Linked DNA regions of Homo sapiens: region 1 is linked to region 2. The links come from fine-mapping of genetic effects on gene expression. A gene starts in region 2. The other region holds a variant in brackets. All regions are shown on one strand. Distances are between the middles of the regions.

The links. PIP is the estimated chance that this variant, and not a neighbour inherited with it, causes the effect. A credible set is the group of variants that fine-mapping cannot tell apart.
Region 1: its variant is the best candidate, but not a certain one, in a credible set for the expression of EXO5-DT in skeletal muscle (FUSION, PIP 0.65).

What each region holds. Positions count from the first base shown.
Region 1 is chr1:40,566,881-40,572,262 of GRCh38, reverse strand. LOC105378673 (a long non-coding RNA gene) reads right to left here. Exons shown (of 3, transcript XR_947235.2): 2 at 4,216-4,281; 3 at 3,697-3,947. Among named protein-coding and RNA genes, the nearest start is that of ZNF684, 38 kb to the right of the region's middle. The variant A/G (reference allele first, on the strand shown) is at 3,124.
Region 2 is chr1:40,505,516-40,510,897 of GRCh38, reverse strand. It overlaps EXO5-DT (EXO5 divergent transcript), which reads left to right and starts at 2,203. Exons shown (of 2, transcript NR_187365.1): 1 at 2,203-2,309. It overlaps EXO5 (exonuclease 5), which reads right to left and starts at 2,131. Exons shown (of 4, transcript NM_001346953.2): 1 at 1,990-2,131; 2 at 1,273-1,447; 3 at 1,108-1,165. RefSeq lists enhancers at 1,725-1,814, 1,845-2,094.

The DNA of each region.
Region 1 (5,382 bases), 61 kb before region 2:
CATGTTGCCTTCAAGCTTCTGTTTAACAAAGCACATCTTGCACAGCCCTTAATCCATTTAACCCTGAGTGGACACAGCACATGTTTCAGAGAGCACGGGGTTGGGGGCAAGGTTACAGATTAACAGCATCTCAAGGCAGAAGAATTTTTCTTAGTACAGAACAAAATGGAGTCTCCCATGTCTACTTCTTTCTACACAGACACAGTAACAATCTGATTTCTCTTTCTTTTCCCCACACCGGCGATTCTCCTGCTTCAGCCTCCCAAGTAGCTGGGACTACAGGTGCGTACCACCACGCCTGGCTAATTTTTTGTATTTTTAGTAGAGACGGGGTTTCACCACGTTGGCCAGGCTGGTCTTGAACTCCTCATGTCAATTAATCCACCCGCCTTGGCCTCCCAAAGTGCTGCAATCACACCCAGTGATTTTCAAGTACTGACCCAGCCTTGTATTACTGGGATAAAATTCATTTGGTTGTGACGTGTCATGTTATATATTGCTAAATTTGATTTGCTAAGATTTTGCTGAAGAATTTTTGCACTTATGTTCATGAAGGTTATTGATCTGTAGCTTTCTTTTCTCATGATGTCTTTATCTAGTTTTGTTCTTTTTCTTTTCTTTCTTTTTCTTTTTTTTTTTTTTTTTTGAGATGGAGTTTTGCTCTTGTTGCCCAGGCTGGAGTGCAGTGGCAAGATCTCAGCTCACCGCAACTTCTGCCTCCTGTGTTCAAGCAATTCTCCTGCCTCAGCCTCTTGAGTAGCTAGGATTACAGGCACCCGCCACTGCACCTGGCTAATTTTTTGTATTTTCAGTAGAGGCGGGGTTTCACCATGTTAGCCAGGCTGGTCTCGAACTCCTGACCTCAGGTGATCCCCCCCCACCTCAGCCTCCCAAAGTGCTGGGATTACAGGTGTAAGCCACCATGCCTGGTGTCTTTGTCTAGTTTTGATACAAGTGTAATGCTGGTTTCATAAAATGAGCTACAAAGTGTTGCCTCTATCTTCTGGAAGAGATTGTGAAGAATTGCTGCTATTTCTTCTTCAAATGTTTGGAAGAATTCACCAGTGAAATCATTTGACCTCAAGTTTTCCTTTTTGGAAGCTATGAATTAGATCTTTTAATAGATTCAGGACTATTCACTTTATTTCTCCTTGAATGAGTTCTGATAATTTGTGTCTTTCAAGGAATTGGTCCATTTTATCTAAGTTGTTGTATATGTGTGCACAGAGTTGTCCCTAGGATTCTCTATTATCCTTTTACTGTCTGTAAAAAGGGAAAGTAGTGATGTCCCCTCTTTCATTGTTTATGTCATTGTTTATGTCAGCAATTTGTGTCTTCTCTGTCTTTCTTGTTAAAGAATCAGTGTTTAATTTATTTTCTCTATTTTTCTGATTTCAATTTCATTGATTTCTGCTCTAAACTTTTTAAAAAATTTTTATTTATTTATTTTTTGAGACGGAGTCTCACTCTTTAGCCCAAGTTGGAGTGCAGTGCCGTGATCTTGGCTCACTGCAACCTCTGCTCCCGGGACTCAAGCGATTCTTGTGCCTCAGCCTCCTGAGTAGCTGGGACTACAGGCGCGCACCACCACGCCCGGCCAAATTTTTGGACAGGGTTTCACCATGTTGCCCAGGGTGGTCTCGAACTCCTGAGCTCAGGTGATCCGCCCACCTCGGCCTCCCAAAGTGCTGGGATTAGAGGTGTGAGCCACTGTACCCGGCTAAACTTTATTCTTTCATTCTGCTTGCTTTATTTTTGCTTTTCTTTTTCTAGTTTATTTAGGTGGATTATACTCCATTTTGGAGACCAAATAACCATAATACCAAATCCTGACTAAAATAGCACACACAAATTTAAAAAAGAAAAAAAAAAAAACAAAAACAGACAAATCTATAGGTGTAAAACTTACAAATAAAGTATTTTATTTAAAAAATCACATAAATAGTTAATAAGGCATTTTGGGAGACCAAGGCAGGCAGATTATGAGGTCAGAAGATCGAGACCATCCTAGCTAACACAGTGAAACCCCATCTCTACTAAAAATACAAAAAATTAGCCGGGCATGGTAGCAGGTGCCTGTAGTCCCAGCTACACGGGAGGCTGAGGCAGGAGAATCTCTTGAACCCGGGAGGCAGAGGTTGCAGTGAGCTGAGATCAGTGCCACTGCACTCGGTGACAGAGCAAGACTCTGTCTCAAAAAAAAAAAAAGTTAATATGGAAAAACAATATTTTAATATCAATAAATACTGAAAACCCACTGGCTCTCATTTAGCACAATTTAAAAAACAGGGTCCAGCCATGGTGGCTCATATCTGTAATCCCAGCACTTTGGGAGGCCAAGGTGGGCAGACCACCTGAGGTCAGGAGTTCAAGACCAGCCTGGCCAACATGGTGAAAACTTGTCTCTACTAAGAATACAAAAATTAGCTGGGCATGGTGGCGCACGCCTGTAATCCCACCTACTCGGGAGGCTGAGGCCGGACAGTTGCTTGAGCCTGGGAGGTGGAGGTTGCAGTGAGCCAAGATTACGCCACTGCACTTCAGCCTGGGCGACAGAGTAAGACTCCGTCTCAAAAACAAACAAACAAACAAACAAACAAACAAAACAAACCAGGGTCCTTGTAGCCTTCTCTGCTATGGGAGGCTACAATCTGTAACCAGAAGAGGGCCCTCAGCAGAACCTGACTCTGGCGAGGTTCTGATCCCTACCTTCTAGCCTCTGGAACTGTGAGAAATACATTTCTGTTGTTTATATTTAAAAAATGGGTAATGTGTTCCAGTTATTCAACAATCAAAACTATATTTAAAAGTGAAAAAGAAGTACAGGAAAGCCTCACTCTTACCCTTGCTTCCCCAGACAACTTTTAAATATAGTTTTGATTATTAAATGACTTTATTAGTTCCTATTTAGGCTTCCAGTGTGACACTATGCAAATATAAGCAAATATGGATATAATTCTCATTCTCCCTTACACAAAATACTCTGTGTACATATTTAATATATTTATATATACATACATACATACATTGTTCTTTATCTTGCATTTTTTCATTTAATAACATATCTTGGAGATATTTCCATTTCAATGAGGAAATTTTGCTTACTCTTCATTGGAGCTGCAT[A/G]CTATTCCACTATGTGGATATCTAGTTTACTAAGCCAGTCCTCTATTGACATACATTTGTGTTGTTTTCCATTTTTTACTAATGGAGACAATGCCGAATGTTTTCAAAGCACATGTGCAAGTGTATCTGTGGGATAAACTCCCAGAAATGGGGTGTTTGTCTTGGAAGGCAAGTGTATCTACAGTTTTGGTAGATGCTGTCAAATTGCTCTCCAAAGGAATTATTCTATTTTGTGCCTGCCCACAGCAGTCTGAGAATGCCTGTTTTTCCACAGCCTCACTAACAATGGGTTTTAAAACTTTTCAATTTCTGTAATCCCAGCACTTTGGGGGGCCGAGGCAGGCAGATCATGATCAGGAGATCAACAGTATCCTGACTAACATGGTGAAACCCTGTCTTTATTAAAAATACAAAAAATTTGCCAGGTATGGTGGCATGCATCTGTAGTCCCAGCTACTCAGGAGGCTGAGGCAGGAGAATCACTTGAACCCAGGAGGTCGAGGTTGCAATGAGCCGAAATCGTGCCACTGCACTCAAGCCTGGGTAACAGCGAGACTCCATCTCAAAAAACAAACAAACAAACAAACAAACAAAACAAACAGACAAAAAAAAACCTTTTCAATTTTTTGCTAACCTGATAGGTAGGAAATGGTGTCTCAGTATGGTTTTGATTTTCATTTCTCATATAATGAGAAAGGTAGAACACCTTTCCAAAAATTTAAGGATCATTTGTATCTCTCTCTGACAAGTCTCTTCATATTTTCCATGCTTTTTCTTCTTGATTTCTAAGAGCTCTTGATAAATAAGGCAATGGATCCCTTTGTCTGTAATATGAATTGCAAATATTTTCAACAGTTTGTAATATTTTACTCCATTTGTATTCTTCCTCTGGGAGCTGGTAAAGGGGAAAACCTCTCTTTTTTAAAGCCCTCCCTCTAGGTTTTTCTTTCCCATTCAATATTTATTCATACATTAATTTATTTGAGGAATTCAATAGAATATGGTTGAAAGCAGTGATTGGAAAAAAAAACCATTTCATAATCTTATATGCGCCATTGAGCTGACACTCTACAATAAACCAGTTACACTTACTTTTGCTTACTTTTGCTATTTGCCAAGCAATAGTATTGGGAAACATTCAAGATGGCTTGCAAAATCCTGAAAAGCATAAAATAGAAAATAAAAACCACTCATTGATACTATTAATATATTAGTGTCTTTCCAGGTTTTTCTTATATGTATGTATCTTTAACATCCTGCTATAACTTATGTACATTTACCTGTCATTAAAAATAATCCAAAAATATAATTTTTCTTGCTAGAGAATAATGAATCATATATAAATATTATAATTTACAGAAAAACATTTCTGTTATTGTAATGTAAAATTTTTCCTTTTTTAAAAAATACTAAAAATAACATGGTAATATATACCTTTTATACATCATTCATCTGATTATTTCCTTAATGTAGTTCTTAGATGTAAAATTTCTAAGTCAAATGGCAGAAACATTTTAAAGGCTTTTGATATATGTTGCCAAACTGTGTTCTGGACAGGATGCTGCCAAAGTATTCAGGGAAAATTTAATTCAGTGAAATGCATTTATTAGAAAATAAGAATAAATAAGCTCTAACTCAAGAAACTAGAAAAATAATTATAAACTTAAAAGAAGTTTATAGAAGAAGGCCAGGTGCAGTGACTCACATCTGTAATCCCAGAGGTCCAGGAGGCCAAGATGTGAGGATCACTTGAGGCCAGGAGATCAAGACCAGCCTAGGCAACATAGCAAGACCCTATCTCCAACAAAAAAATTTAAAAATTAGCCAGGAGTGGTGGTGTGCGCCTGTAGTCCTAGCTACTTTGTAGGCTGAGATGGGAGGATCCCTTGAGCTCAGTAGTTCAAGGTTACAGTGAGCTATGATCATGCCACTGCACTCCTGCCTAGGTGACAGGGAAAGAGCCTGTCTCTCTAAAAACTAAACAAACAAAAACACCCCAAAACAAACAAAAACACCCTAAAATAAGTAGAAGGATTTAGTAAAGATTTTAAAAATTAATAAAATAGAAAATAGCACCAAGAAAGAAGCATAATGTGTCCTGATTAGGAAAAACATAAAAAACTCATGCTTAGATACATTTAGTGAAATGGCAGGACATTTTTCTGCCTCTGAGGATTTTGCTAAACCTCTTTAAAGATAAAGAGATAATCTTGGCTGGGCGCAGTGGCTCATGCCTATAATCCCAGCACTTTGGGAGGC
Region 2 (5,382 bases):
TCCAAGTCCAAATCAATAACCTTAAAATATTTTATTTCAAATATCTAGACCTGGCTGTCCAATATGGTAGCCATTAGTAGCCACTAGCCATATGTGGCTACTTAAATTTAATTAAAATAAAATAAAATTCACATCTCAGTTGCACTAGCCATATATTAAGTGCTCAGTAGCTACATCTGGCTGGTGGATACAGATAAGGCACAGATACAGAACATTCCCTGATCACAGAAAGCTCTACTGAACAGCATAGAGTTAGACTATTTCCTGTGTACACATTAACTCCCCAAAGAGAGAGGAAGCTCCTGAAATGTATGGAGTTCCTACTTGTTTTACATACAACATTGAGAACAGGTAGTTCTAAACAGGGAAGTGAAATGTCTTTTGGAGAAGATACAAAGCAGGGCATTCTCTGTGAAAGTATTCATCTATAAGAATAAAACAGTACACTAGGGATGGATGACTGATGCTCAGATGTGTCTGGGACTTTCCTACGCAGAAAAGAATCCAGAAGAGAGCATAATGCAGTGCATTGTGTCCCAAATTGTAGTTTGTATGTCTGACACGAGACGATTTTACATAGCACATGGACCAACATTTTTAGATACACCTTAGAATAACTATACTGTTATTGGAGCAGCCATCAAATGGCTAATTTCACAGATATTGTTTCTTAGGACAAGTTTGATTTTTATAAAAAAAAAAAGTAAGTAAAAACATAGAATAATACAGGTAGTACACAGGTATGGCAAAATTGTTAGGTAGTAAGTGAATGGGATGCTGGGAAACAGCATAATGCCAAGAGTCTGGGAGTCCTACAGATATGGATTCTAAACCTAATCCTGAGTAGTTCGGTAGCATTTAGTAGTATGCTACTTGCCTTTTGAGTAAGCTTGGACAAGGTTCTAGTTTTCCTGAAGTTACTGACACATTTTTAAAATACCTACTAACCCTACTGAGATATCCGACCATTGAGTGATAACATATAGTACGCATATTAGCACTCGATGAAGATAGATCTCCTTCTTTTTCCCCAAGGAAGAGATGAGAGAGTGTATCGATTCCCCCTGACAAAGGAGATGAAACTTTAGAAGAGAAACTCCTATTCACCTGTGACTTCGTTGATCTTCCTCCTCATAGGGAAGGCCAGAATGCTGAAATGACAAGGCTAGGGAAGAGAAAGAAGTTCTGAAAGACCAGGTCTGCATTAAAGAACCTAAATTAGCAACTTAGGTCCTTGCTATGGTAGAACCGGAACTTCTGGTCCTTTCTTACCTGACCATTCCCTCACGTTGGGTGTTTTCTCCTCTCACATTGACACTGCACAGACTGTTACCCACCCCAGATCCTAGGTTACATAACGCTCGCCTCTCTCCTGGGGCAAACTCTCTCCATGATTTCTTCGTTCCCCCGTACTCTAGATGCAATGACTTGATCCAATCCCTGCTCCCTGAAAGTAAAAGGGTCAGACATAACCAAGATCCCCAAGGAGCTCCGAGATCAGTTCCCTCTTCCAGCTCCATTCTCAACCCAGCAGCTCAAGCAAGAGACCTTATGACAGCGGCTCTTTCTCTCAGATGGGTTACTGCCTTCTGCAGAATTGCCGATGGCAACATCCTGACTTGTTCAGTGCGGCCCGGACTTGTGGGCTCCGCGGGCGTTTGCCTTCAGGGAAGATCTTTCCTCTGGCCCTAAAGCACTGTCTCCCAGGGAGTGCCATGCATGCCCTAAAGTGTACTGAGCACTTCCTACAGTTCTGGCAGAGCCAGGAATAAGAACAGGGAGCCGTCCACCTCGGGAAGGAGTCCCGGCCAACAGCACTGTGTTCCGAGGGCGAAGGTCCAGAACGGGAACCCGGCCTGTGAGGGGAGACGAGACGAGCCGCTTCCCGGGAGCCGCGCCCACCAAGGGAGGGAGACGCGGCGATCGCAGGGACAGAACCCTAAGCTCCGAAACGCAGCCTCCCAGCCCATTCTCCGGCCTTCCCCTAACCTCTGATACTCCTCCGAACCTCGGACTCCACCTGGTTTCGCCGCGGCCTCGGAGCTGCTCCCGGACGCTCCCGGCGAGGAGACTGAGGAAGCCGGGCAGAGCGCGCTGCCGGAGCGGACTACACAGTCGGCCCGCCACTCGCAAAAAAGCCGCCCAGAGCCCAGTCCCAGAGTGCCCCGCGGCTGCCCACGGACCGCCTTCCCAGAGGCCCTCGCGGCGCCGCCTACCTCGCGAGGCTGCGGCTGGGGCAGAAATCCGTCTCTGTGAGCGGAGGAGGGTGTGCTTATGCGAGAGCAGGTTTTGGGAGCTCACTAAAGCAGGTCAGTCCCTCTGTTTGCGCCGTTGTCTGTGGGTCGTTTAATTCCGGGCGCAGCTGATCTGTAACTTCCCTCACTGGCGAGGTCTCCCAGTTACCACCGGGACAATCCGAGCAAGGTCTGGGCCCCTCGCTGCCCCCGGTGAAGTGCCGCGTCTCCGCTTGGCCATCCGTGGATTCAGCATCCCCACCTTAGCACCTCCCGCCGGCTTTTCCATTGAGAGCAAAACCACGAACTCACTTTTGAGAGATGCTGGCGCTCCCCTCATCAATATTTCTTTTTTTTTTTCTGTTTGCTTACTTTTAACTAACCTTTTATTGATAAATATAACACAATTTTATTCTGAAATATAAACCAAAGATAAGTATAATTATGAACAGCCAAGTCATTAGAGCGAAAAAAGAATAGTGTCAGGTTCTTCACAGATACACTTCCTGAGAAAACCACTAGCCCGACTTTTATAACACTTTGCTTTTCTTATTTATATTTATTTATTTATTTATTTTACCAAAAGCAGATACTTGACTCTTTGCTTTTCTTTACGGTTTATCACGCATACTTGAAAACTGGATTTATGACAAAGGTGGCATCATACAGCCATGGAGAAAAGATGGTCTATTCAGTGAAGGTTCTATGACAATATGAAGGCCGGGCACGGTGGCTCACGCCTGTAATCCCAGCACTTTGGGAGGCTGAGGTGGGCGGATCACGAGGTTAAGAGATCGAGACCATCCTGGCCAACATGGTGAAACCCTGTCTCTACTAAAAAGTACAAAAATTAGCTGGGTGTGGTGGCACACACCTGTAGTCCCAGCTATTCAGGAGGCTGAAGCAGGAGAATCGCTTGAACCGGGAGGCGGAGGTTGCAGTGAGCGGAGATCACACCACTGCACTTCAGCCTGGGCAACAGAGGGAGACTCCGTCTCAAAAAAAAAAACAAAACAGAAAACAGGACCTCTATCTCTCATTTCATCACAAAAATCAATTGTAGCTGGATTAAGACCTAAATGTGAAATCCTAAACTATAAAGTCTTCAGAATATAATATAGGAAAATATCTTTGGACTTCAGAATAGGTAAATATTTTAAAACAAAAATAGAAAAACATTAAATTGGCCAGGCATGGTGGCTCATGCCTGTAATACCAACACTTTGGGAGGCCCAGGTAGGCGGATCACTTGAGGTCAGGAGTTGAGACCAGCCTGGCCAACATAGTGAAACCCCGTTTCTAGTAAAAATACAAAAAATTAGCCAAGTGTGGTGGCAGGTGCCTGTAATCTCAGCTACTTGGGAGGCTGAGGCAGGAGAATCACTTGAACCTGGGAGGCGGAGTTTGCAGTGAGCCGACAACAGGCCACTGCACTCCAGCCTGGGTGATAAAGTGAGACTCTGTCTCAAAAAAAAAAAGGAAAAAAAGAAAGAGAAAAAAGGAAAGAAAAAGAAAGAAAGAGAAAGAAAGAAAAGAAAAGAAAGAAAGAGAAACATTAAATTAAGACAACTACAGGCTGAGTGCAGTGGCTCACACACCTGTAATCCTAGAACTCTGGGAGGCCGAAGTGGGTGGATCCCTTGAGCTCAGTTCAGAAACCAGCTGGGGTAACATGGTGAAAACACGTCTCTACAAAAAATACAAAAATTAGCTGGGGGTGGTGATACGTGCCTGTAGTCCCAGCTACTCTGGTGCGTCAGTTGGGAAAATTTTGAAGTGACTTGTGTTTTAGATAATATTATCAATCAATTATAGGTCTCCTGAGTGTCATAATGATTTTGTGGTTATGTAGGAAAATGTTCTTTTTCTTAGAAATATGTAAGTTGAGGCCAGGTACGGTGGCTCTCGCCTGTAATCCTAGCACTTTGGGAGGCCGAGGCGGGCGGATCACCTGAAGTCAGGAGTTCAAGACCAGCCTGGCCAACATGGTGAAACCCTGTCTCTACTAAAATACAAAAATTAGCCGGGCATGATGGCAGGTGCCTGTAATCCTAGCTACTCGGGAGGCTGAGATGGGAGAATCGCTTGAAACCGGGAGATGGTGGTTGCAGTGAGCCGAGATCATGCCACTGCACTCCAGCCTGGGTGGCTGACTGAGACTCTTGTCTCAAAAAAAAAAAAAAAAAAAAATGGAATTTAAGTGTATTAAATAGTCTGTTCTCATGCTGCTAATAAAGACATACCTGAGATTGGGTAATTTATAAAGGAAAGAGATTTAATTGACTCACGGCTCCACATGGCGGGGGAGGCCTCACAATCATGGAGGAAGGTGAAGGAGGAGCAAAGTCACCTCTTACATGGTGGCAGGCAAGAGAGAACATGTGCAGGGGAACACACCTTTATAAAACCATCAGGTCAGCTGGGTGTGGTGCCTTATGCCCGTAATCCCAGCACTTTGGGAGGCCATGGCTGGTGGATCACCTAAGGTCAGGAGTTCAAGACCAGCCTGGCCAACATGGTGAAACCCTATCTCTACTAAAAATACAAAAAATTAGCCAAGCATGGTGGCAGACGCCTGTAATCCCAGCTATTCGGGAGGCTGAGGCAGGAGAATCACTTGAACCTGGGAGGCGGAGGTTGTGGTGAGCTGAGATCGCGCCACTGCACTCCAGCCTGGGCAACAAGAGTGAAATTCCATCTCAAAAACAAAAACGAAACAAAACAAAACCATCAGATCTTGTGAGACTTATTCACTATCACGAGAACAGCATGGGAAAGACCTGCCCCCACGATTCAATTACCTCCTACCAGGTACCTCTTCCATGATATGTGGGAATTATGGGAGCTACACTTCAAGATGAGATTTGGGTTGGGAGACAACCAAACCATATCATTGAGGAAATGCTTTTTAATCCATTGAGATATGAGAAGGCATTTCTGGATTGAGGCTACAAAAACTTTCTGCCTCTTCCCCAACATAACCTTTCTTACTTGAGATGTAAACTGAATGCCAGGAAAACCCCTCCCCAACCCCTTCACACATGGACCACTCCTCAAATGGGGTTTGAGGGGCAATGACACTGGGTAGAGTGAAGCAGAAGAGATTTAGAAACAGTCATGGAATTTGTGGGGAAAATAAATATCAAAA